Linked DNA regions of Homo sapiens: region 2 is linked to region 1. The links come from fine-mapping of genetic effects on gene expression. A gene starts in region 1. The other region holds a variant in brackets. All regions are shown on one strand. Distances are between the middles of the regions. Region 1 holds the start of NUMB (NUMB endocytic adaptor protein). Region 2 overlaps HEATR4 (HEAT repeat containing 4).

Evidence for each region. PIP is the estimated chance that this variant, and not a neighbour inherited with it, causes the effect.
Region 2: its variant is the best candidate, but not a certain one, in a credible set for the expression of NUMB in whole blood (INTERVAL, PIP 0.74).

What each region holds. Positions count from the first base shown.
Region 1 is chr14:73,451,148-73,467,577 of GRCh38, forward strand. It overlaps NUMB (NUMB endocytic adaptor protein), which reads right to left and starts at 7,399. Exons shown (of 13, transcript NM_001005743.2): 1 at 7,346-7,399. It overlaps LOC101928143 (a long non-coding RNA gene), which reads right to left and starts at 12,495. Exons shown (of 3, transcript NR_135251.1): 1 at 12,328-12,495; 2 at 11,382-11,542; 3 at 9,788-10,117. RefSeq lists enhancers at 1,055-1,114, 7,728-8,261, 8,262-8,795, 12,444-12,533, 13,794-14,023 and silencers at 7,123-7,252, 7,263-7,352, 7,543-7,742.
Region 2 is chr14:73,478,314-73,489,693 of GRCh38, forward strand. It overlaps HEATR4 (HEAT repeat containing 4), which reads right to left. Exons shown (of 18, transcript NM_001220484.1): 18 at 171-529. The coding sequence ends at 293. Among named protein-coding and RNA genes, the nearest start is that of RIOX1, 6.9 kb to the right of the region's middle. The variant G/A (reference allele first, on the strand shown) is at 4,784.

The DNA.
Region 1 (16,430 bases):
TGTCTCAAAAAAAAAAAAAAAAAAAAACAAAAAACAAATCTACACTTCGGGAGGCTGAGGCAGGCAGATCACGAGGTCAGGAGTTCAATACCAGCCTGGCCAATATGGTGAAACCCCATCTCTACTAAAAATACAAAAAACTAGCCAGGTGTGGTGGCGTGTGCCTGTAGTCCCAGCTATTCGGGAGGCTAAAGCAGGAGAATTACTTGAACCCACAAGGCGGAGGTTGCAGTGAGCCAAGATTGAGCCACTGCACTCCAGCCTGGGCAACAGAGGAGACACCGTCTAAAAAAAAAAAAAAAAAACCTACAACAAAAATTAGCCAGGCATAGTGGCATGCCCCTGTAGTCCCAGCTACTCGGTAGCCTGACGCAGGACAATTGCTTGAACCTGGGAGGTGGAGATTTCAGTGAGCCGAGATTGTGCCACTGCACTCCAGCCTGGGCATCTTTAAATAAAATAAATTAAGTAAATAAACCTTCACAAATTATCTACATGATAAAATCAAAATGTACCTGAGATGTACATATGCACAAGTGACTAGACGAAAGTATCACTATTACTTTTCCAAAGTCAAAGGTAACCAAGGCCAATCTTAAATAAAGTTACAAATTTAGCTGATTTCTGTGTCCCTGGTTGCCCCAGCTTTGCCTTTATTCAGAGCTAAGCAGTATTCTACAGTTTTTCCCTCTTCTTCCCTAATTAAACTAGAAATGTTCCAAATTAACTATAATTCACCTTAATATAATCAAGTTACCATAATTAAGATTTTGCTGTCCTACTCAGGTAATTGAAGACTTTGATCTTGGTTAAAAGAACGTAAGATAGCCTGAGCACGGTAGCTCATGCCTGTAATCCCAACACTTTGGGAGGACTGCCTGAGTTTAGGAGTTTAACAAGACCCTGTCTCTACCCCCCAAAAAAAAAACTGGCCAGGCGTGGTGGCTCACGCCTGGAATCCCAGAACTTTGGGAGGCCAGGGTGGATGGATCACCTGAGACCAGGAGTTCAAGACCAGCCTGACCAAAATGGTGAAACCTCATCTCTACTAAAAATGCAAAAATTAGCGGGGTGTGGTAGTGCACACCTGTAATCCCAGCTACTAGGGAGGATGAGGCAGGAGAATCACCTGAACCCAGGAAGTGGAGGTTGCGGTGAGCTAAAATTGTGCCATTGTACTCCAGCCTGGGCAACGAGAACGAAACTCTGTCTCAAAAACAAAACAAAACAAAACAAAACTGGGCAGCCTGTAGTCCCAGCAACTGGAGAGGCTGAGGCAGAAGGATCACCTGAGCCCAGAATGTTGAGGCTGCAGTGAGCCGAGATCATGCCACTGCATACTCCCTCCACGTCAAAAGAGCAAGACACCGTCTCAAAAAAAAGGAACGTAACTTATCAGCAAACAAGTGGGGAGAAACAGGGTTTTCGTGGGTAGAGAGGGGGAAGTCACTGAACGTTAATTACTAATATAGCAACTCCTTGGTTAATGCATTTAAGATGACTGGGGGTCTCTTCCTAATCCCATACTCCACTGGAGAGGACAAGTGGGAAAGGTTGGTCTAGTTAAGGTTGCTGGGGACCTCCCAAGAGCTGCAGAAGCAGAGATAAGAAGAGCCTTCTTCTAAATCCACATGGTCCTTCCAAGGCTCTCATCCTCTAGGACTACCACTTCTCAGTCTACTTACTTGTCTTCTGACATGCTTTCTTGAGGGGAAGAAAACAAAGGAAGAGTAATAACAAGCAGCAGAAACTGCAGAGAATGAAAAATAAGTCCATAGGAGAATGTTGCAAATAGAATCATCCTCCTTTACATATGTCACTCCAGGAAAACTGCCAAGAACCACTCATTCCTCTAGATACACTTCCTGTAGATCCTCCAGACTCCTCCCTTAAGCACGTCAGTATTCTCCTTATTCTCCCTTCATTTCAATCCTCCTTTTGCCTCAAGATTTCGAAGTGCACTTTTTTTTATGGTTTCTTTTTGTTTTGTTTTGTTTTGTTTGAGACGGAGTTTCTCTCTTGTTGCCCAGGCTGGAGTACAATGGCGTGCTATTGGCTCACTGTAACCTCCGCCTCCTGGGTTCAAGTGATTCTCCTGCCTCAGCCTCCTGAGTAGCTGGGATTACAGGTATGTGCCACCACGCCCGGCTAATTTTGTATTTTTAGTAGAGACGGGATTTCTCCATGTTGGTCAGGCTGGTCTCAAACTCCTGACCTCAGGTGATCCACCCGCCTCAGCCTCCCAAAGTGCTGGGATTACAGGCATGAGCCACCACGCCTAGCCTCAAAGTGCACGTTTAATAATCTCCAAAATATATGGCAATATTGTACCTAGTATTTAATGATATCTTATTTATCACTACCTGTGTGTTGCAGCTGAACATACATCCTAAAGCCCTGTATTGTATTTCTACCTCTTATAATAAAATTTATAATATGTTACATTACTAAAACAAATTTTCCTTTTTTTTTTTTTTCAAAACAAAGTCTCGCTTTGTCGCCCAGGATGGAGTGCAGTGGCGCGATCTCAGCTCACTGCAACCTCCGCCTCCTAGGTTCAAGCCATTCTCCTGCCTCAGCCTCCCGAGTAGCTGGGACTACAGTCGCGTGCCACCATGCCCAGCTAATTTTTTGTGTTTTTAGTAGAGATGGGGTTTCACTGTGTTAGCCAGGATGGTCTCGATCTCCTGACCTCGTGATCCGTCTGCCTCGGCCTCCCAAAGTGCTGGGATTAAAGGCATGAGCCGCCGCACCCGGCCCCTTAAACAAATTTTCTTTGCCACTAAAGGATGCACTATAATGTCAAGATTAAAAAAATAAGATAGCAAAAAAATTTTTTTTTAATTTAAGGAGTATATTGTTTTATTTCTCCCCAGCCCTATCAGGAAAACATAAAATGAGGGAGGGAAAAAGTTGGGCGGGGGGGGAACGGTTGAAGAACTATTGGGTACTATGCTCACTACCTGGGTGACAGGACCAATCATACCTCAAACCTCAGCATCACACAATATACCCATATAACCAACCTGCATATGTACTCTCAGAATCTAAACTAAAAGTTGAATTTTTTTTTAAAAAAAAAGGAAAAAAATCAGAGTTCAGAAATCTGCAGAATTCAAGATCTATTCTCTAGAAATCAAAACCTGTTACACACAACAGATGTGTTTTGGCAAGTCCAAAGTAAAATGTAGCTTTTCAAGTACTCTATTATATAAAATACTTTTTTAAAGGTAATTAGTTTAGGAAGTTTCGAAGCAAACTAAAAAACTAGATATAGGGGTTTTATACTTTTAGAGAACTAGATTTTCAGTTACCCACATTTCTATTAGAATTTATTGTACAGCGAGTTGGAGAGCAGGAAGCAGAAAAGTAGATCAGAGACTTATAAAACAAGACAAGGCTTCTCTGAAATAGAAAATAAACCTAATTAACTAGTGTTAATTGAACTTCTACTTTTTAAAATCACTTACCTAAATAAAACTTCAGTATGTGAAACTGAGTCTCACTAAATAGCACAGTTAGGATTTTGGGATTTAAAAACCACCATTTATTCAACTACAGACAACCAAATCCCACTGTAAAATTATTTGGGCAATCAAAGCTATTCCTAGATAAGTATAATCAGATGAATAATAAGTCCACTTATTAAAACCAGGTAATCAAACTGCTCAATGTTCTCAATTATGAAGAATGAACTTTTCTATTTGTCATATAGGATTTCTCATTCTTCCATCATTTGGTGTAGAACTGAATGATCTATATAAATGTACCATGACTTCAACAACAACTCTAGTGCTAAGAATAATCCACTGAACTCAATGCAAGAAATCAAAAGCTTTCCTTCTCGAAACTTATGTCACAGAAAAAAAGCAGTAAATTTATTTTGTGAAAAGTCTGCATCTGCTTTAGAACTCAGATATGCAATGGTTATATGCCTTGCAGTCTTCCAAATGAAAATAAAAATTTTAAGGAAATATAATCTGAAATAAAACTAAAAATTATTTTTGAGAGAGAAAAAAATAAACCAAAAATCCTGATGCAAAGCTATACCAACAGTTTCTTCACAATTTCATAAAACATTAATGAAGAGGTTACATAATCCCCTGGATTAAAGATTTTAAAGAAAGCTGCAAGGATCTCTTTCAGTTTTCAATACTGCTTCCTGTTCTTAACAGCCATAAAAACAGATCTAAATCAACTCCTAAATATAAACCATCTAGCTTTCAATGGAAGAAAAATCAAACCACGTACAGATAAAACATACATATTCTTTTTAAAAACACGCTGTAAATTACATTTAGGTTCCTCAAACAAGTTAAGTTTACAACATGTACCACATCCAGTTTATTCTCAAGGGAGAAAACCATTAAACAAAAGCTCCCTCTTAATAAATGATTTACTTTGTAGTTAAGCCTCTATCCCAGGTGCATTTTGCTGTCACATATTACCACTATTTCTTTTCTCTACAAAGACCTAGAAACTGTATATCTAGTTCCTTTAAAAATATCTGTATATGTTTTATATTAGTGTAAGGATAAGAAATACTTAATATTTTTACTCTCTAAAAAGGAAATATCTTTTCATTTTTCTCTTTTGCAGTGTTTCTTACTTTGTTTTTGCTTATTTTCTATACATGAAATTTTCTCAAGTCAGTCCATTTCAGTGTTGTTTACTGTCAATATGTCTGTGTATACTCAGGCTTTTACAAACAATGCTTTACGGTACAGTGATAAAAAAGAAAGGGTGAACAAGAGGGCACAAGTGAAACAAAAGCGGACAACATCTGAGAAACACCATTCAATTTCTCTGCCTCAGATTCCCTTAAGTTCTCATGCCAAAGATTCTCAATATCCAAAAAAGTTCCAGAGTCAGAGGCATAACACAATATGTGACAAGACAAACACAGGAGGAACCAAATCAGAAACTGAAGAAATTTAATGGAATATAATACTCCCAAAAAAACCTTTTTTTTTTTTTTTAAGATGGAGTTTCACTCTTGTTGCCCAGACTGGAATGCAATGGCATGATCTCGGCTCACTGCAACCTCCACCTCCGGGGTTCAAGCAATTCTCCAGCCTCAGCCTTCCAAGTAGCTGGGATTACAGGCACGCGCCACCACGCCCAGCTAATTTTGTATTTTTTTTAAAGATGGGGGTCTCACCATGTTGGTCAGGCTGATCTTGAACTCCTGACCTCAAGTGATCCGCCCGCCTTGGCCTCCCAAAGTGCTGGGATTATAGGCGTGAGCCACCGCACCCAGCTTTCAGACTTTTTTAACTGTAAGAAATATATTTTATCCTTTGGCCAGGAACTCAAAAAAAGAAATACACTTTACATTGTGACCTAGTACATACATGTAGGAGAAAAGTTTCCCAAAACAATACTTTTCCTTACCAAATGCAATGTCAGTTTATTCTGTTCTACATTTTATTTTCAATGCAGGTAAAAACTCACAACATTGATTTTATAAATTACTAATAAATCACAATCCACAGTTTGAAAAACACAGGCTAAAAATGAGTATCCTTTATAATAGGATCTTTTAGGCAATTTGCCTCTACCTGTCTCTTTAGCAGGTATTTTAAAGTTGCTACCATTATTACCGGTTTCATTAAAGTAAGTGGTTCTTAAAGTGTGGTCCTCTGACCAACGTGATCATCATTTGAGATAAATATAAATTATTGGGCCCCACCCCAGACCTACTGAAACCCCCAGGTGGGGCCAAGCAATCTACATTTTACCAAGCCCTCCAGGTGATTTTGATGCAAGCTAACATCTGCGAGCCAGGTCTTTACCTTCTATTTAAGAAGTCAGGTCTTTATCGTCTATTGAACAATCCAGTACACACGACTATGTGCCAGTCACTATCCTAAAAGCTCTACAAATACCAACTCACATGAAAAAAAAAACACCACCACCACCTTATAAAGTAGGAACTATTACTATTAGTATTCTGATGAGGAAACTGCACAGAAACTTAGCTAAGTGGTGGAACTAGAACTCAAAACTTCTTTTCACTTTAGCCGAGTATGCCTACCCTCTTTCTGATAAGTATTTACTTCTACTCCTTTAGTTCAGCTACTCCTCCCCTTTTCCCTCCCAAATTCCCCACCCTGTCAATGAACCTATTTCCTAATATTACTGCCATCATCCTAAAACAAATTTCTTTTCTAAAACAAGTCACTTAACCTTGCTTTTAGGAGCTTTGCTTTGGTCCTAGATGTCATCTTGATATTAATTACGAAACTGAAGTTTCTTCTATTTGTGAAGACCTGTGAACCTACATGGCTCCACTGTTAATTTCTCATATATCTACTGTCCTAGCCAGTTCCACGAAACCATTACTCTCTCCTCGGGCAACTTTCTTTCTCTACCTTATCCCCTCCTATAGGGATTCTCTCCCACCTCCGCCCATCTCCGTCCCATTTTGCATGACTCCTCTCCGACCGAGGGAACTTCCACTCCCCTGCTGGCTCCTCACCCCGGTCTCAAACGCGAGCCACTCCTCGAGGACTTCTTTCCTGGTCCCTTAGGGATCCTCAGAGCCGGAGCGGCCAGGCCAGTTGGGTCTCCCATCCCAGCTCAGCTATGGGGGCGCAGGGAGCTCCGGTTCTTCCCCCAGGCGGTGCAAGATCTCTACTCGTCCGACCCTCCGAAGACCTGCTGCTCCTCATCTCTCCAGGAGCCCCCTCCCTTGGACAGCCGCTTTTCTCAGGAGGGTCCCCAACCCCCTCCGAGCGTTTCCTCAGACGCCCCTACTTGGAGCAAGTCTGCTCCCTGTCACCCGGGACCCTGGCCACCCTCGGCCTTCCTACCTCCCTCGGACCGGGGCCACTCCCAGTTCCCCTGCCCCCCACCCCGCTCTCTCCTCACCGGCCGCTGCCGGGCTTCCCGGATTCCTTTTCTCCCTGGCACCCAAGCCGTCCTGGGTATTCCCAAGACACCCCGCCCTTGAAGCAGGTCGTTACAGGTCACCCCCTCTCTGGGACCCTGGCCGCTTCCGTTTCCTCAGATACCTACTCCTCACACAGTGGCCGCCGGTCAGCGCGCTAGACCGGAGCAGCTGGACGTCCCAAGGGACCTCCTGGCCTGACCCGCGCGGGTCCGGCCGTAGCCTACCTTCCTCGGGAGAACTCCGCAGCCAGAAGCCCAGCCCCTCTCCCCCTAGCCCAGTCAGCGCGAACTCGCCGCCGCCCCCGCCGCCTCCGCCCTGGCCCCGGCCCCGGCCCGGGCCCCGACCCGAAGTCCAGGCCCCCTTCCTCCGGCCTCCGCCTCCGGAGTGCTGAGCTGGAGATTCCGCCCCGCGACGGCCCCCAGATCTCTGACCCGCGTTACCGGCACTCACCTGCCGCTGCCCCCGACCAACTCAAGCGCCACTGCCTCTACCTCGGCCGCCAGTGGCCACCAAGCGCCACCACCTCCCCCATGACAACAGGCCCACCCTCTTTCATACTTCTAACCTATCCATTGGATAGTGGGGCGGCAGCTCTCCTCTCTGATTGGTTTAGTATACCCGCCCGTCATCGCTCTTTACCGCCCCTTTTCCTAAACCCGGTATTCGCCCCCGCCCGGACCTGGAGCGTCCTAGCCCAAGCTTTAGTTGTAATTGGTTGAGGGTTGGGCAATTCGAAGTTATGATAGGCTGCTAAAAGTGTCTGTTAAGCTAACTGGCAAGAGACGTGACGGTTAAGGTTGATTCACGCTTGTGCACAGTTTGGTTGCGCAGTAGAAAGCAAAGGAGGGGCAGACGCTCACATTCGTGGTTACCCGGGAAGGGTTAAGTCTTTGTTGTAGAGTTTTCTCTGTAAACTTTTCCACTTCTCCAGCTCACTTCCTGCAAGGAGAAGCTTATCTCTGCTAGCTTTATTCATAGGGGTAGTACTTACAAAACACCAACATTAGAGGTTGTGTTTAAGAAGTGTTTCCAAGCCCTGGGGAGAAAGGTATCAGAGAGATAAAAATGTCCCCTTCTTTTCTTTGGTCTCAATGCATCCAATTTCATTGAAGTTCTTTCCAGGAGCCTCAATGCTAAAGGGCAAAGCGCAAACTTTCATTTAGCAGAAATCAGTCAACTTCGGTTGCAATTATAAATGTCGTCAATAAACTGAAGTGGCGTATTGAGAGTTCTCCAGCTTCCAGATCCACTCCTGGCTGACCCCTGCCAATTGACCAGACAGCCATTAGCAACTTTTTTTTTTTTTTTTTTTTTCTGTGAGACGGAGTTTCTCTCTTGTTGCCCAGGCTGGAGTGCAATGGTGCTATCTCGGCTCATCGCAACCTACGCCTCCCAGGTTCAAGCGATTCTTCTGCCTTAGCCTCCCGAGTAGCTGGGATTATAGGCATGAGACGGGGTTTCTCCATGTTGGTCAGGCTAGTCTCGAACTCCCAACCTCAGGTGATCCGCCCGCCTCGGCCTCCCAAAGTGCTGGTATTACAGGCGTAAGCCACCGCGCCCGGCCAGCAACTTTCTAATAAGCGGGCCACATTATACCCTTTATGATGCTCTGGAAATGAGAATTCTGCTTTCCCCCACCTCTCACTGCCACTTTGTTTTTCTGTTCAGCAGTTCTTAAATAGCCCTACTAGCTGTGTGTCAGATACTTTAAAAGCTTCTCTCTCTCTCTCTCTTTTTTTTTTCTAAACCTCTTCCTAGCAGTCTAAATTAGGGCCATTGAATGAATTGCCGGGTTGTGTGTGTGTGTGTTTTTTTTTTTTCCTCACTTGGCACAATGCACAAGAATAAATGATTGCATTTTTTATTCACTTGGGTACAAATCACAGTAGGCATTTTTGAGAAATCTAATGTTGCTATAAAAACTCTTGTGCTCCTAGAAATATATTCATCATTAGCTTTTTGTTTTTCCTTTTTTTTCACCCACTTTTCCTGCTCCTAAATAACAAAATGCTGGTCTGATTACTCTTTCAGTTTCTAAATCAGATTTAAATGTACTTTCTCACAACCCCACCTATGATACATATACCCATGGGCCATGAAACAACACCCAGGGATAGTTTAAGACACTGTCAGGCCGTGCGGTGGCTCATGCCTGTTATCCCAGCACTCTGGGAGGCCGAGCCGGGCAGATCACCTGAGGTCAGGAGTTTGAGACCAGCCTGACTAACATGGTGAAACCCCTGTCTCTGCAGATGGTGCCACTGCACTCCAGCCTGGGCAACAGAGTGAGACTCTGTCTTAAAAAAAAAAAAAAAAAAAGACACTGTCAAGGAGGCATTCACCTCAAGGATGTGGACTTTGGAAATGTGCTTTGTCTCTTTCTTCTTTCTGCTAACCCTTTGTCTCATATTTCTTCTATTTACTAACCTCCTTGTTCTTTGCAGAGCAAGCTACAAAGAGTCTAAAACTGTATGGTTTATTATTCAGAAAAATATTGTCTTTTTTCTAGCCTATATTTTTAGTCAAGTTTAAATAAAGTACATACTTCTATCACCAGACTAAGCAGAAATTATTCCTCCAGTAACTATACATAACAATAAAGTGCCTTTTCCTAGTTATTTTCCGGAACTTTCCTCCCCCTCCTCTCTTCCTCACCTTCCAATTTAGAAATAACCTCCCATTCAATTCAATGACTCACAAAAAGCCTGTGAAAGGAAAGTGGAAAAGCCAAAATAACTTAGAGATGTCTGAATCATTCAGCTGAAGGAAAGATCAGACATTGACCATGATAAGATAGACGCCAAGACATAAGGCAAGCCTGAGCTAACATCCCATAACATGTGAAGTAATGCAAATGTGAAGATGCCCCAAGAAAAAGCAAATACCAATATGTCCTTTTACACAGCCTTTTAATATATCACCAGCAGCTTGCTTCTCTCTAGTCTTGGCAGTGTGCCATGCTACCAATTTTAGAGCAAGTTAGAAGACAATTAATGTCCTGACAGATAGGAAACAATAACGTCATAGGAGGACATGACCATTATTATGGTACTTTGGGTAATAATGGCTCTTGCACAGCCATAGTGACTAGGTGCCATAGAAAACATAGAATTAGGCCAGCCTTGCTAAGAGGACTTGCCATCTAAGTTGAAGAATGCAGCGAAATTACTATCACAAAACTGGGTGGAAAATTGTCACAAAAGTCAGCCGCTATTTCATACACTAAAAAAAAAAAAAAAAAGAAAGCATGTATAAATGCTTTTGCTCATATACACACATCTATCATTCCTATTCTTTGTGAATATCAGTTAAGAAAGGACATATAAAATAAATATGTTACAACCCAGTAAGTAGTGGGAAAACCTTAAGGAAGGTTTCAAGGAACATGCCTTGAAATAACAGAAGGCTATTGTGTTATCAAAGACTGTGCAGTACCGGAGGGGTTATTGCTTGTATCCCTACATTTTGCTTTCACGTGCACAAGGTAACCCTATCATGTAATTACTCCATCCAGCTTTTTTCTTTTCTTTCCTGTGTTTTTTGCTTCTCTACCATTCTCAGGGCTCCCTCTCAGAAAACAAGAACACTGGAGTCTGGGAGTCTGCAGCTTCCTGTTGCATGGCTGGCTGTGGAGGTCCTGCAGATGGTATCTGTTCAGAGCCACTTGGGCACGACCAAGATGGCAGGTACATTCGGGGCAAAAATAGCATTTATAATCCCAATTAAGCAGAAAATAGAGGACTCAGAGTGATGTCCAATATCTGAGGAGTGATATAGTGTGCCTTGGGCTTTCCTGTACACTAATGCTGTTTCTCCTGCTCTTTCATAATGTCACTTTTCAAGGGAAAAGAATCCAAGTCTCTTTCCATTTCTATTTTAGCCCACAGGGGCAATCTCACTAGGGAAAGGATCCATTTTTTGCTTTTGGATTTTCTTCCTCTGGATTCTACACACGATTCCAATTCCAACTAGATTAGAGAAATAAACAACCGGTGGAGAAGAAAATCGCTCAGATAGCAGACAAGGGCCAGAACTGCCTGCCACTAGCAGTTGGAGGCAAGCCAAAATATTTGATAAGAGGTAGCTTCCTGAGTTAGGGATCCCTGAGGGTGGAGGCTGACAAAGATGAAGGGATTAGAGAGAAGGGGAGGGAAAAGGAGGGAAGAGGAGGAGATGAGGGGGCAGGAGAGAAAAGGGTAAGAAAAGCTAGAAAAACAGTCAAAAAACCCAATCAGAGTGCTGAGCCAGCTTACAGTCCTGCCTTGCCTACCCCCTATCCCCACCCATGTGGACTTTACACTAGGTTGCATAATTACACCAGCAAAGTGCAGCCTCTGCCACTGGTTAAAAGGGAAAGCGTGCCAGGCTCCAGCCTATGGGACCGTTGTTCTGCTGCCACCTGGAAATCCTCCCAGAGCTCAAAGCCTGCTGCTCTGGGCAAAGCTGACAAGGAAGGACAGATTCAGCAGCCAACCAAGGAGCATACCTTCATTTGATTTCCTTAAGGCAAAAGCACTGGCTAAACAAAGGGAGACTATCTGGGAGAAGGTGTTTTCACCCTTTCAAGCTGGGGTGCTTTCACCACCGGGAAGTGCCACGCTGCTTTCCACGCTGGAACAAGGTACTGTGGTTTCAAAGTTCAAGGCTCTGTTTCAGGGATGGGAAGGAAAAAAAAATCAGTGAAAGAAGGTGTTCTGGTCTCTCAGGCAGAACCATTTGTTATTTGATTCCAGAGCTCATGTAATTTTTAAATACCACACTATGCATTTTCATTACTAAATGCATTCATTTTCATCCTCAAGAAAAGTGTATGCCCCCTTCCGCCTGCTTTACATAATATGGCTTGAGCGCTTGTAAAAATGGATGGGCTGTAGCTCTGAGTTCTGCCATTGTGCTATTGACTGGAGCTCCTGGTTACTATCACCAGATCTATGGGTGGATCAGCCATTCTTCTGCAGCAGGGAGTGGACCGACTCAAAGCACTTAGCACCATTTAAACTTTTGTCCATCTCTGTTTTTATGCACACAAAGAGTTTCCTGGAAACATGGCTATCCTCCAAGGATTTCAGAGAGTAGAATTCTTCCAGAACTGCAGTGTCCCAATCACTTGGAACCTCATGAGAAAGCAGACTTAAACTCAGACCCTAGAACCTCGAACTTAGTATGTTCCAAAAGCTTTGGCTCTGCCATTTACCAACTGTGTAATTTGGGGAACATTGATTCATCACCCTAAAGCTTCATTTTCTTCATCTATAAAATGAGATACATATTAGCTATCTTGTCTTGCATAACAAATTACCCCAAAACTCAGTAGCTTAAAAGAACGTTTATCGTCTCAGTTTCTGTGGGTCAACTCTCTGGCATTGGGTCTCTTATAAGACCACAGTCATCTCAAGCTCAGTTGGGACAGATCTGCTTCCTGCCTCACTCACCTCGTTATTGTTGGCAGGACTCACTTCCTAAGGCCTTGGTTCCCCAGGAGCTGTTGGCCAGAAGCCTCCCTCGGTGCCCTGCCTCATGGGCCTCTTCGTTGAGCATCTCACAACGTGGCAGCTTACTTCATCAGTGCAAGCAAGCAAGAGCAAGAGAGAGGACTCACCAGAGACAGTAATAGCAAAACAGAAGGCACAGTCTTTCGTAATCCAATCACAGATGTGACATCCCATCACTGTTGCCACATCCTGTGAGTTAGAAGTAAGTCATTAGGTCCAGCCCACACTCAAGGAGATTACACAAGGATGTAAAGACCAGCAAGAGGATCATTGGGAGCTATTTTAGAAGCAGCCTACTCTAAGATAATAATAACATCTAGGGTTTGTTTAAAATTTAAATTAGAGACTGCATGGTGGCAGCTACTTGGGAGGCTGAGGTGGGAGGCTCACTTGAGGCCAGGGGTTTGAGGCCAGCTTGGGCAACATGGTGAGACTCCTCCATCTCTTAAAAAAAAAAAACAAATATATGTGTATATTTTTAAATATTCAAAAATCAAATTAGAGAATATGTTCAATTCGGGCCAGCATATGTTATGTAATATATAACTGTTATATATAATAACTATTATTACCATTAATATTATTATTGACTATATAATGGCTGGTTTTCTCCCCTAGCTCCTAGAAGGAACCCTTTTATGAGGAGTAAATGAAATAATATACATAATTCAGGACCTGACATGTAGTAAATGCTCAATAATCATTAGTTATTGTTAACATTATTAATAGCCGGGCACGGTAGCTCACGCCTGTAATCCCAGCACTTTGGGAGGCCAAGGCGGGCGGATCACAAGGTCAGGAGATCGAGACCATCCTAGCTAACACGGTGAAACCCCATCTCTACAAATACAAAAAAATTAATTGGGCATGGTGGCGGACACCTGTTGTCCCAGCTACTCAGAAGGCTGAAGCAGGAGAATGGCATGAACTCAGGAGGCGGAGCTTGCAGTGAGCAGAGATCACGCCACTGCACTCCAGTCTGGGCAACAGAGCGAGACTCCATCTCAAAAAAAAAACCAACATTATTAATAAACATGTGATATTTGATATTCTCTCCAAGCTACTGGAAGGAAATACTATGAACTCTCATTACTTTTCCAGGGTGGCCTTATTTCCATATGTTTTGTTCAGTTTTTCCATTAGCACCCTATACTCACCAGAGCACAATTCTAGATTTGGGGTTCATAAAATATGACCACCAAATCCATAACACAGTCTAATTTCCTGCCTGCCCTATACCAAGAAGGGTATGCACAAAACCAGCAAAATGGGCTAATTATGGCAGCACCTCCTATATGCACAAAAGTCTGAGCCTGGCCCCAACCAGAATCCAGACAGAAGGGATTGTGCCTGGGAGAATGAACAGAGACTTCGCTATGTGACCTTTGTCCCTTTTAAAATATGGTCATCATTGTGCAGTCTACTCAGTCAATCCTCAACTAAGAATGAGAGAAAGAGGGACCTACACAGGCCCTACAGATGGGATAAGGGTGTCCAAGAAGACATTTTCACACCTGGGTTGGAAGTAATAAGAACCCATAAAAATAAAGAGCAATTTTGCAATTAGAAAGTTGGAAGAAGAGAGTCCAGTTTGCAACATGAAAGAAAGATCATAAGAGGCTGGAGTCACCCTTTAGGGCTGGGTTGAAGCTGTCTTCCTTATAAAGGTGGAGGATATTGAGGGTTGGCCTGTGGCCAGGAAAAATGAGGAACTATAATCAAGAAAACCCCATTATTTTTGCTTTGAGTCATTTCTCAGGGCTCACCCATAATTATTACATAAGAAAGACAGAAAAAACAAAAACCTCCTAAAGTGTAAATGATCCTTAAACTAAAAACACCGTAGAAATACAAAGATCCAGGCCGGGTGCGGTGGCTCATGCCTGTAATCCCAGCTACTTGGGAGGCTGAGGCAGGAGAATCACTTAAACCCGAGAGGCGGAGGTTGCGGTGAGCCGAGATAGCACCATTGCACTCCAGCCTGGGCAACAAGAAAGAAGAAACTCTGTCTCAAAAAAAAAAAAAAAAAAGAAAAAAGAAAAGAAAAGAAAAGAAAAAGAAAAGAAAGAAATACAAAGATCCAAGTTTTTGCAACTTATCTGTCTCTCTCTCTCTCTGTCTCTGTTTCTTCTTCTCCCACCCATATTTGCACATGTTCTTTCATTTCTTTTCCGCACAGAAGAAAACTACCCTTACAAGGAAATGCCTTAGGATCCTCCAGGCTGGAATTGTTTTCAGATCAGGAATCATCTTCTCTAGCAGTCTCCACTGCAGCTCTACAGGATTAGAGCTCAGTATTCACAGATAATGACAGTTTACACCTCTCCCTCTAAATCAAGTCACCTGTGCAGCTGTGATTTAAAGAGTTCGGATGATTTTCTGAGCTGCACTAGCCCTGGCCCTTTCCTCTCCCGAAATGTTCCCAAACATTACCAGATTTGTACACAGAAAGGCTCAAAGCAGAAGTTGCTGGGAAAGTTCTGTAAACATGAAGGGGAGATGTACACCAATATCAAGTTCCTCTTCCTGTGGCTCTGGTTTTCTCTCCTTCCTATTCTCTATTCTGTGTTTCCTCTGTGTCTGGGACAGAGGAGACTTGTATGTTTCCATACCTGTTAATAGCCAGAGAAAACTTTGTTCGGTCCCTTGGCAGGTTAGCGGATTTTAGAAGGGAAAGACAGGGTAAAGAGATGAGGACTCGCCCCCAGGAAGTCTGACTATACAATAGGAATGGTGTATTTATTTATTCAGCCCTTTCCTACACTGCAGTCATTTCATTTCACCCTCAGGATGTGTATTTAGTGGTAAGCTTTCTTTCTTTTCCTGTTAGTTTCCTGCAAAAGGACATCAGTGTCTTCCTCATTGGAGCAGCTGATAAGAAGGATGTTGTTGCTCAAATAGAGACAGAAAAACATATTTCCTATCACAGACCCAGGCCATCCCAAGGGCATGGAGAATTAGACCAGGTTGTGGAAATAATAGAAGAACCTGATTTTCATGCCTATTTCCCTGGTGCCATCTTCCTCCCTGAAATACTCTGCAATAATTACACCTTCCACTTAAGTAGGATTTCACACTTTTCCAAAGTAGCATCACGTTGTACGGAAGTAGAGTTGGCTGCACTGTAGCTGGCATAGCCTATTAGTTACTTTGGAGGGTTTATATGAAGAGGCAACTTTGGGTTTAACTTTAAGTTTTGGGGAACTCATACAAATAGCATAGGTTTACCCTAAGTTGGATTCCATTTGCTAGCTCCTGCCTCTCCTACAGATCTCATCTTCAAAGTTACTATTATAGGGGAGGCTTCCTGTTATCCCTCTCCCAGCCACATTGAGTTGGGTGCCCCTCTTATACACACTGCATTTCCACTTTGGATACACATATCCCGTGGGTAAACTTGCTCAGTGCCTAGCCATCCAGCAACATGTCGGCACTGTAATACCAGGGACAACAACCTTCCTGCTCATGGCTGCCTAGCATAGGGCCTGGCCCACAGTAGTTCACTAAATATTTAGTGAATGAATGAGTGAGTCAGGAATTGTCTCTAGGAGTAGCCTTGCCACCTGACACAATCACTTATTTTGGGGTAGTGCTCTGGGAGTTATAAAAAAGGCCTGTGCTAATTATCACATAATGATCACCGGTGGTTATAGTATTTAGTAGGCAAAAGCACAGTGGTGGAGTATGACTAAATAAAGGTCTCCTCCAGGTGGGGGGCTATCCCCGCACTCTGAATTTGGAACCCCACTGCCCATCTCTCTTGGACTCCTGTGGACAGGGTCATTCCTTTGGGAAATTCTTTTCGGAGTTGCCAACACTGGGGAACAGGGAGAATTAAGCTCCATTTCCCCAAACTCAATGAAGTCTTTCTGATATGAAAATTAAATTAAAGAACAAGGCCAGTGGTGGCCCTCTGTTGCTTTCCTTTCAGCCTCTGAGACAGATTTCCCCATCAAGGGTCTGCGCTGAGTCATCCCGCCTCCAGCGGAAACAAGTCAGCAGCACCCTGAGGATGGGTGATGGAGGTAAAGACTCATCCTGCT
Region 2 (11,380 bases), 25 kb after region 1:
TGGAAAAGATGCTGGATCCTTCAATATTACTGCTTTAGAAAGATTTGGAACTCTGACCCATATTTAGTACATGACCTTTCTGGGGCGTGGAAAAATATGCTCTGTCATCTAATGTGATGTCAATTTTCTTTAACCTTCCATGTAAATAGTGCGCATTAAGACATGAGGTCTACTGTTAAATAATTTCTCTTTATAAACATAGTGACAACAAGATTGTACAGTATCAATTAAAAAGACCCAATGTGACCAGGTCCACTGCTTCCTGCATCTTGAAGTAAGACAAGTGTTCAGCTTAGAGATGAGCACCTTTCTTTCCAGAGGGAGAAGACATGATGGGAGAAAAAAATGTTCTCTCTGAGAATTTACCCAGATAAAGAGCTGGGTAGTCGGATCTAAATGGTCCCACAGCAATCCTTTTCTCGGGGGAGGTGCGTAGATCTTTGACAAGTGATGAACGAACTTTGCTTCGTGTGGTTAGGCCTGGGACTGAACTTTGTAACCAGGGATTTGGTGCGCGGGGCTTCACAGGCTGCAGAGAAACATGAAAACATGAGTGCATATGCCAAACGTGTCTCATGTGAGCGGCAGAGCCCAAGTGAAGGCCTCTTTGGCTATAGGGTGTCTCCTTTTTTTTTTTCTTTTTGAGACGGAGTCCCACTCTGTCGCCCAGGCTGGAGTTCAGTGGCGCAATCTCGGCTTACTGCAATCTCCGACTCCCGGGTTCAAGTGATTCTCTTGCCTCAGCCTCTGAAGCAGCTGGGATTACAGGCGCCCGCCACCACGCCCAGCTAATTTTTTTGTTTGTTTGTTTGTTTTTTTTGAGACGGAGTCTCACACTCTCTCCCAGGCTGGAGTGCAGTGGCGCCATCTCGGCTCACTGCCAGCTCCGCCTCCCGGGTTCACGCCATTCTCCTGCCTCAGCCTCCCGAGTAGCTGGGACTACAGGCGCCCACCACCACGCCCAGCTAATTTTTTGTATTTTTAGTAGAGACGAGGTTTCACCGTGTTAGCCAGGAGGGTCTCAATCTCCTGACCTTGTGACCAGCCCGCCTCGGCCTCCCAAAGTGCTGGGATTACGGTGTCAGCCACTGCGCCCGGCGTTTTTTTTTCTTTCTTTCTTTCTTTCTTTTTTTTTTTTTTTTGAGACGGAGTTTCGCTCTTGTTGCCCAGGCTGGGGTGCAATGGTGCGATCTCGGCTCACCGCAACCTCTGCCCCCAGAGTTCAAGGGATTCTCCTGCCTCAGCCTCCCAAGTAGCTGGGATTACAGGCATGCGCCACCACACCCTACTAATTTTGTATTTTTAGTAGAGACAGCGTTTCTCCATGTTGGCCAGGCTGGTCTCGAACTCAGGTGATCCGCCGGCCTCGGCCTCCCAAAGTGCTGGGATTACAGGCATGAGCCTCCGCTCCCGGCCACGCCCAGCTAATTTTTTTGTATTTTTAGTAGAGACAGGGTTTCACCATGTTGGCCAGGCTGGTCTTGAACTCCTGACCTCATGATCTGCCTGCCTCAGCCTCCCAAAGTGCTGAGATTACAGGCGTGAGCCACCATGCCCAGAGATTATTCTTTAATTAATCTCAAAAGCCTAACACCAGGGTAGTCTCTCTCAGCCTACTCTGGCTTGAAAAGCTGCCCATTAAAAAATAAAAATAAAAGCCTAACACCAGAGTTCGATATATGTTCACTCACACATTTGTAGAAGGAACACAATATCTCTTATAATATTCTTTACTTCACTAATAAGTTATAATTTCAGCTATACATTATATGGCGTTATTACTAGTTAAGTAATAAAACCAATGTATTATTTATCTTGTTTTTCATTTCTTAAAAAATGAATAATTGGCTGGGCACGGTGGCTCACACCTGTGATCCCAGCACTTTGGGAGGCCAAGGCAGGCAGCTCACTTGAGGTCGGGAGTTCAAGACCAGCCTGGCCAACATGGTGAAACCCCATCTCTACTAAAAATACAAAAATTAGCCAGGCATGGCGCAGATGCCTGTAATCTCAGCTACTCGGGAGGCTGAGGCAGAAGAATCGCTTGAACCAGGAGGCAGAGGTTGCAGTGAGCCAAGATTGCGCCACTGTACTCTAGCCTGGGCGACAGAGAGAGACTTTGTCTCAAAATAAAAAAAGATTAATCAATTATAATGGACCATATTATTTTAATTTTAATTTTCAAGATTTATTCTTATATTTGTTATATTTATTTTTAATATTTTATTATGTTTTTTGAATATTGTATGTGAAATAAAAAATGAAGTCATGATACAAAGTAAGTCTGACCTGTACATGAATGTTTGTAGAAGCTTTATTATAATCACCCAAAACTAGAAGCAACCAAGATGTCTTTCAAGAAGTGAATGAACAAACTGGTGCACCTACACAATGGAAGAGTATTCAGAGGTAAAAAGAAACGATGCCTGGCGCGGTGGCTCATACTTGTAATCTCAGCACTTTGGGAGGCCAAGGCAGGCGGATCACAAGGTCAGGAGTTCGAGACCAGCCTGACTAACATGGTGAAACCCTGTCTCTTGTAAAAATACAAAAATTACCTGGGCGTGGTGGCATGTGCCTGTATTTCCACTACTTAGGAGGCTGAGGCAGAAGAATCGATTGAACCCGGGGGTCAGAGGTTGCAGTGAGCCGAGAACACACCACTGCACTCCAGCCTGGGCAGCAGAGCAAGACTCCATCTCAAAAAAAAAAGAAAGAAAGAAAGAAAGAAATGAGCTGTGAAGCCAGAAAAAGACATGCATTATTTTAATTATTTTAGTAGAGACAGAACTAGTAGAGTTAATTATTTTAGTAGAGACATGAACCTCTTCAAATGTGTATTGCTGCCAGGAGGTTGGCTGACGCCTGTAATCCCAGCAATTTGGGAGGCCGAGGCAGGCAGATCACTTGAGGTCAGGAGTTTGAGACCAGCTTGGCCAACATGGTGAAACCCCATCTTTACTAAAAATACAAAAATTAGCGGGGGGTGGCGGTGCACGCCTGTAATCCCAGCTACTTGGGAGGCTGAGGCACGAGAATCACTTGAACCCGGGAGTGAGATATTGCAGTGAGGTGAGATGGTGCCACTGCACTTCAACCTGGGCAACAAAGTGAGACTGTGTCTCAAAGAAAAAAAAAGATATGTATTGCTAGGTGAAAGAAGGCAGCCGGAAAAGGCAACATACTGTATAATTCCAATTATATGACATTGTGTAAAAGACAAAGCTATAGAGATAGTAAAAAAAGGCCGGGCATGGTGGCTCATGCCTGTAATCCCAAGCACTTTGGGAGGCCGACGCGGGCGGATCACGAGGTCAGGAGATCGAGACCATCCTGGCTAACAAGGTGAAACCCCGTCTCTACTAAAAATACAAAAAAAAAATTAGCCGGGCATGGTGGCGGGCACCTGTAGTCCCAGCTACTCGGGAGGCTGAGGCAGGAGAATGGCGTGAACCTGGGAGGCGGAGCTTGCAGTGAGCCAAGATCGTGCCACTGCACTCCAGCCTGGGTGACAGAGCGAGACTCCATCTCAAAAAAAAATAAAAAAATAAAAACATCAGTAGTTGTCCAGCTACTCGGGAGGCTGAGGTGGGAGGATCACTTGAGCAGGGGCAGTTGAGGCTGCAGTGAGCCATGATCATACCACTGCAACTCCAGCTTAGGCAACAGGAGGAGACCCTGTCTCAAAATAAAAAACAAAAACAAAACAAAAAAAGGAGAGGAAAAAAGAAAAATCAGTGGTTGACAGGTATTTGTGGGGAGGAAAGGAGGGTTGAATAAGTGAAGCACAGGCCGGGCACACTGGCTCACGCCTGTAATCCCAGCACTTTAGGAGGCCCACGCAGGCAGATGACTTGAGGCCAAGAGTTTGAGACCAGCCTGGCCAACATGGTGAAACCCAGTCTCTACTAAAAATACAAAAATTAGGCCGGGCACAGTGGCTCACACCTGTAACCCCAGCACTTTGGAAGCCTGAGGCGGGCAGATCACCTGAGGTCAGAAGTTCAAGACCAGCCTGGCCAATGTGGTGAAACTCTGTCTCTACTAAAAATTCAAAAATTAACCAGGCATGGTGGCAGGCGATTGTAATCCTAGCTACTCAGGAGGCTGAGGCAGGAGAATTACTTGAACCCAGAAGGCGGAGGCTGCAATGGGCCGAGACTGCGCCACTGCACTCCAGTCTGGGCGACACAGCCAGACTTCGAGACTCCATCTCAAACAAAAAAAGGGAAGCACAGGAGACTTTTTAAGGTGGTGAAACTATTCTGAATATTCTGTATAATATATGATGGTTACATGACATTATTCATTTGTTAAAACCTGTAGAACTTTACAGCAAGAAGAGTGAACCTTATTTTTTGAGACAGAGTTTCACTCTTGTCACCCAGGCTGGAGTGCAATGGTGCAATCTCGGCTCACCATAACCTCCGCCTTCCAAATTCAAGCTTCTTTTAAATGCCTCAGCCACCCAAGTAGCTGAGATTACAGGCACACACCACCATGCCCAGTTAGTTTTTGTATTTTTAGTAGAGATGGGGGTTTCACCATGTTGGCCAGGCTGGTCTGGAACTCCTGGCCCTCAGGTGATCCACCCATCTCAGCCTCCCAAAGTGCTGGGATTGCAGGCATGAGGCACCCCACCCAGCCAGAGTAAACGTTAATGTATGCAAATTAAAACAAAAACATTTAGGAAGTAAGGGGATCTAGGAAGGAATACGGACTGCATGTAGCAAGAGAACCAAATGTATAGAGCAACTTCAGTGAAGGGAGTAGGAAAAACTTC[G/A]GAAATGTGTGGAATCTATAAGACTAAATACAACAGGAATTGCACATAGCACTGTACTCTAGTTAATAAAATTGTTTCCCAGGGGAGTGTGGGTTAATATTTCTGATTTATGTATGGAAAATTGGAACATGAAGTATACTAATAATAATTGTAATGATTACCTGAAAGAAATATAGACAGTCTTCTAGTCATGGAGAATAAATTTTAAAACCTTCATTTTTTACATCAGGTGTTTTTTATTTGTTTGTTTGTTTTTTAGAGACCTGGTCTTACTATGTTGCCCCAGCTGCCAGAGTGCAGGAGCTAGTACCTATTCACAGGCACGATCATAGCTCACTATAAACTTGAACTCCTGGGCTCAAGTGATCCTCCTGTCTCTGGCCTCACATGTAGCTAAAACTACGTGTACCATCATGCCCCAACCCTCAATTTAAATACAGATTTTTGTTGCAGATGTGATGATGAAAAATAAATACTTTCAAGCACAATTGTATATTAGGATAAAATTCTGTGTGGAAGTTACTTCATAAAGGAAATGTGAGCGTTTTTTTTTAAGATGTAATTTTAATTTTAAAGAAGAGCTTACATATTTTATTTTTAAAATGGATGATGGTAGTTATCAAACTGTTATGGCATTTAGATTCAAATGGATGCATTTAAATTCAGTTTTGAACTTAAAATATCAATATGTAAAGCTGGAATACTTACATGTTTGAAATTAAACTCTGCTTCTATTTAAAATGAAAACATTTTAGATGTCAATTTTTTTTTTTTGAGACGGAGTCTCATCTCTGTCACCCAGGCTGTAGTACAGTGGCTCAATCTCAGGCTCACTGCAACCTCCGCCTCTCAGGTTCAAGCGATTATCCTGTCTCAGCCTCCCGAGTAGCTGGGATTACAGGCATGCACCACCATACCTGGCTAATTTTTCTTTATTTTCAGTAGAGACGGGGTTTTACCATGTTGGCCAGGCTGGTCTCAAACTCCCGACCTCAGGTGATCCACTTGCCTCTGCCTCCCAAAGTGCTGGGATTGCAGGCGTGAGCCATCATGCCTGGCCTCATTTTAGATGTCAATTTAAGAAGGTAAAGAGGTGACATCATTTTTCAAAATTATTTTATAGGTTATATGAGCAAGCAAAAGAGTTGGAAATTCAACATCCTAGATAGCATCTGTTACGACGTATAGCAAGACTCAGCCAATTTGTTCTGTAAAAGGCCAGATAGTAGATATTTCAGGCTTTTGGGGCCAGATGGCCTATTCAAACTGTGGTTTTTTGTTTGTTTGTTTGTTTGTCATTGAGAGGGAGTCTTGCCCTGTTGCCCAGGCTGGAGTGCAGTGGCGCGATCCTGGCTCACTGCAACCTCTGTCTCCCGCATTCAAGCAATTCTGGTGCCTCAGCCACCTGAGTAGCTGGGATTATAGGCACATGCCACCACACCCGGCTAATTTTTGTATTTTTTAGTAGAGACGGGGTTTCACTATGTTGGCCAGGCTGGTCTCGAACTCCTGGCCCCAAGTGATCCTCCCGCCTCAGCCTCCCAAAGTGCTGGGATTACAGGCATGAGCCACCACACCCAGCCTAAACTTTATATTAACATCCTAAAGTTAAACATGAAAATTCTTCTATAACAAATAATCCCATTGCCCAGAGGGAACTTCTTTCTGTCTTCAGTTTGGTTTATATCTTTCCAGATATTCAACTATGCAGGCAGACACACACACACACACACACAGACACACACACACACACACACACACACACATATATGGTTTTAAATAAATTTTACATAATGTAGGCTCATGCCTGTAATCCCAGCACTTTGGAAGGCTGAGGCAGGTGGATCACCTGAGGTCAGCAGTTTGAGACCAGCTTAGCCAATATGGTGAAACCTTGTCACTACTAAAAATAGAAAAATTGGCTGGGCATGGTGGCAAGCGCCTGTAATCCCAACTACTTGGGAGGCTGAAGCAGGAGAATCGCTTGAACCTGGGAGGTGGAGGATGCAGTGAGCCGAGATTGCACCACTGCACTCCAGCCTGGGTGACAGAGGGAAACTCTGTCTCAAAAAAGAAAAAAGAATAAAGAAAAGAAAAGAAAATTATATATAATGTATATTGGCTGCATTTTTTAAGCAAAAAATGGGACAACATATTGTTCTATAATTTGATTTTTTAACACGTTATAGACATTTCCTTGTCATTCCTTTAAATAACTATTGATTGGTAGATATTTGAGTAATTTCCAGTTTTGAAATTAAAAGCAACAACCATCTATGTGTAAATATCTTTGTACACATGGGTGAATTTTTTTTTTTTTTTTCGAGACAGGGTTTGGCTCTATTGCCCAGGCTGGAGTGCAGTGGCGCCATCTCAGCTCACTGCAACCTCTGCATCCCAGGCTCAAGCCATCCTCCCACCTTAGCCTCCCTAGTAGCTGGGACCACAGGTGTACATCACCATGCCTGGCTAATTTTTGTATTTAAAATTTTTCGGCTTGGCATGGCAGCTCATTCCTGTAATCCCAGCACTTTGGGAGGCCAAGGCAGTTGGATCACTTAGGGCAAGGAGTTCAAGACCAGCCTGGCCAACATGGCAAAACTCCATCTCAACTAAAAATACAAAAATTAGTTGGGCATCGTGGCACATGCCTGTAATCCAAGCTACTCAGGTGAGGCACAAGAATCGCTTGAACCTGGCAGGTGGAGGTTGCAGTGAGCCAAGATCACGCCACTGCATTTCAGGCTAGGTGACAAAGCAAGACTCTGTCTCAAAAAAAAAAAAAATGCTGATTTTTCATAGCAACAGCGTCTCACCATGTTGCTCAGGCTGGTCTGGAACTCTTGAGTTCAAGCAATCCACCTGCCTCAGCCTACCAAAGTGTTGGGATTATCGGTGTTAGCCACTGCACCTGGCCAGTGAATATTTTTTAAGGATAGATTTCTAGATGTAGAATTACTACTGGGTCAAAGATATCAAAATTTTGTATTGATGAATTGTCATCTAAAAGTTTTTACCAGGGTTTCTCAATCCTGGTACTATTGACATTTGGGCCCAGATACTCCTTGGTTATGGGGTTTCATTGTACATTGTAGAATGTTTTACAGCATCCCTCAATGCTAGTAGCACCCCCACTGTTGGACAACCAAAAATATCTCTAGATATTGCTAAATGACCCCTGGGGGTGCAAAATAGCCCCAGGTTCAGAACCACTGCCTCGGACATTTGCTTTCTTTTACTTTCCTTTTATTTCTCTTTCTCACCATCTCCCTTTCAACAACTCATGCTATCCTTCCTTCTTAAAGAAAAGAACTTATGAGGCTGGGTGTGGTGGCTCACGCCCGTAATTCCAGCACTTTGGGAGACTGAGGCAGGTGGCTTGCCTGAGTCCAGGAGTTCAAGACCAGCTTGACCAACATGGCGAAACCCCGTCTCTAGTGAAAATACAAAAATTAGCCGGGTGTGGTGGCCTGCGCCTGTAATCCCAGCTACTTGGGAGGTGGAGACAGGAGAATTGCTTGAACCCAGGAGGCGGAGATTGCAGTGAGCCGAGATCGTGCCATTGCACTCCAGCCTGGGCAACAGAGTGAGACTCTGTCTTGAAAAAAAAAAAGAAAGGAACTTATAATTTAGTATATATCACCCTTCCTTCCCAGTATATTTACACTTTAGATATAGATGAAGTGAAAGTGACAATGACTAATTCAAGAATAACTATCTAATGATGGGATGAATTTTGATGGGAGAGATAATTTGGGGTACTTTCCTGATAGGCTTTAAATCATACTATGTACACTTAAACATCCTGTTGGCTCTATTCATCTTCTTTTCTGTAGAAGTTTCTCTGAATAACAATGATTAGCATCTATATTCAGAATGTCAAGTTCCTGGCCCAGCGCGATGGCTCACGCCTGTAATCCCAGCACTTTGGGAGGCCAAGGCGGGCAGATCATGAGGTCAGGAGATGGAGACCATCCTGGCTAACATGGTGAAACCCCGTCTGTACTAAAAATAATAATAATAATAATTAAAAAAAGAATGTCAATTTCCTTTGATTTTTTTAAAAGGGAATTCTATTGATTCAAAACAAAAAAAAAAAGAAGAGAAAGGTAAGCAATGCTTAAAAATCAAGAAAAATGAGATGAATTAGGGAAAGTAAAGTTTATTGTTTAAAAAATACTATATTTTGGCTGGGCACAGTGGCTCGCGCCTGTAATCCCAGCACTTTGGGAGGCTGAGGCAGGCAGATCACCTGAGGTCAGGAGTTTGAGACCAGCCTGGCCAACATGGGAAACCCCATCTCTACTAAAAATACAAAAATTAGTTGGGCATGGTAGGGGGTGCCTGTAATCCCAGCTACTCGGGAGGCTGAGGCAGGAGAAAATTGCTTGAATCTGGGAGGCAGAGGTTGTAGTGGGCCAAGATAGCACCACTGCACTCCAGCCTGGATGACAGAGCAAGACTCTATCTCAAAACAAACAAACAAACAAAGCCTATATTTTTAGCAGGGCATGGTGGCTCATGCTTGTAATCCCAGGGCAGTGTGCTAAATGCAAGACGGGATAGAAAAAGGCATAAGGAAGTCTTTTCCTTGAATTTTAGGAAGGAATGTGACAAGAACATGAATTACCAGCACAATGTGTTAAATTCATGTGAAAGAGTCAAAATTCTCTTGAGATGAAGGAGATGGTAGCGCCTTTGGAGAGGAGATGGAATGTGAAATGGGCTTTAATTAGGGTTTTGACAAAAGATAATTGGGGGACAATATGCAGAGGAAACAGCCTGAGAAAACATATAAAGGATGATATAGGTAAGCAACAGCAAACAGTCTAGCTTGTAGAAGTAGAGTTTACAGGGGTTGGGGATGATAGGCTGTAACATTATGTGACTCCAGTACCTAGCTGAGGAACTTGGATTTGTCAATGGGGCACCTAGGTAGATTTTGAGTAGGGTGATGACAGGTTTGGGGCCTCAACTTGAGAAAATTCATCTTGTAGCTATCTGTGGTATAAATTGGCATGGGGGCTGATAAGGTTTGGCTCTGTGTCCCCACCCAAATCTCATGTTGAATTGTAATCTCCAATGTTAGATGAGGGACCTGGTGGGAGGTGATTAGATCATGGGGGCAGATTTCCCCCTTGCTGCTCTCATGATGGTGGTTGAGTTCTCACAAGATCTGGTTGCTTTTGTTTGAGACGGAGTCTCGCTGTGTCGCCCAGGCTGGAGTGCAGTAGCGTGATCTTGACTCACTGCGACCTCCACTTCCCGGGTTCATGCAATTCTCCTGCCTCAGCCTCCAGAGTAGCTGGGATGACAGGGGCGTGCCACTATGCCCGGCTAATTTTTTGTATTTTTAGTAGAGATGGGGTTTCACTGTGCTAGCCAGGATGGTCTTGATCTCCTGACCTCATGATCCACCCACCTTGGCCTCCTGAAGTGCTGGGATTACAGGCATGAGCTTGCTTCCCCTTCACCTTCCACCATGATTTTAAGTTTCTTTAGGCCTCCCCAACCATGCTTCCTCTACAGCCTGAGGAACTGTGAGCCAATTAAACCTCTTTTCTTTATAAATTACTCAGTCTCAGGTAGTTCTTTATAGCAATGTGAGAATGGCTAATACAGGAGCAATTAATGGTAAAGAGACAGTCGGGCACCGCGGCTCATGCCTGTAATCCCAGCACTTTGGGAGGCCGAGATAGGTGGATCACCTGAGGTCAGGAATTCGAGACCAGCCTGACCAACATGGTGAAACCCTGTCTCTACTAAAAATACAAAAATTAGCTTCGGTGGTAGCAGGTGCCTGTAATCCCAGCTACCTGGGAGGCTGAGGCAGGAGAATCGCTTGAACCTGGGAGGTGGAGGTTGCAGTGAGCCAAGATTGGGCCATTGCAACACAGAGGTTGGGGTAACACAGCAAGACCCTGTCTCAAAAAAATAAAATAAAAATAAAAAATAAAGGTAAAGAGACTAGTTGGGAGGCTATTTGTAATAAACCAGGATTTGTCTGCCTCAACACTACACTACTGACATTTTGCATCAGACAATTATTTGTTGTGGGAGGGTTGTCCTTAGTATTGTAGAATGTTTAGTAGTGTCTCTAGTGTCTGTTTACTAGATGTTAGACAACCCCTAGCCCCCTATATGACATTGCCAAATGTCCCTATGGAGACAATATCACCCCCAGTTGATAACTGTGTGTGTAACAGACCATGTGAGAAATAAAAAAGGGTGGATGTTAGACATGGGTAAGGACAAAATCTAAAAGCCTTGGCAAGTGTTTGGATAGGCTTGCAACTGAGAAAGAGGGAGTGTTGAAAGCTCAAACAGAGAAAGGTCCTAGAGGCCATGTACTGTAGTCTAATATGCTTATCATTGCTTGAAACATTGTAAACCCTCTTGGAAGGCAGTTTGGTAAAACCTATTAATAATCACAAAAAGTATCTTACTTTTTGACCCAGCACTTTTATTTCTGGGAGTTTATCTTAAATGATTCAAATGAAGACAAGGAATCTTTATGTACAAAGCAATTAGTTGCATGACAGACAGTGACCACGTTCTCAAAAATTACACCCGCATGCCACCACATTGCCTGTTAAA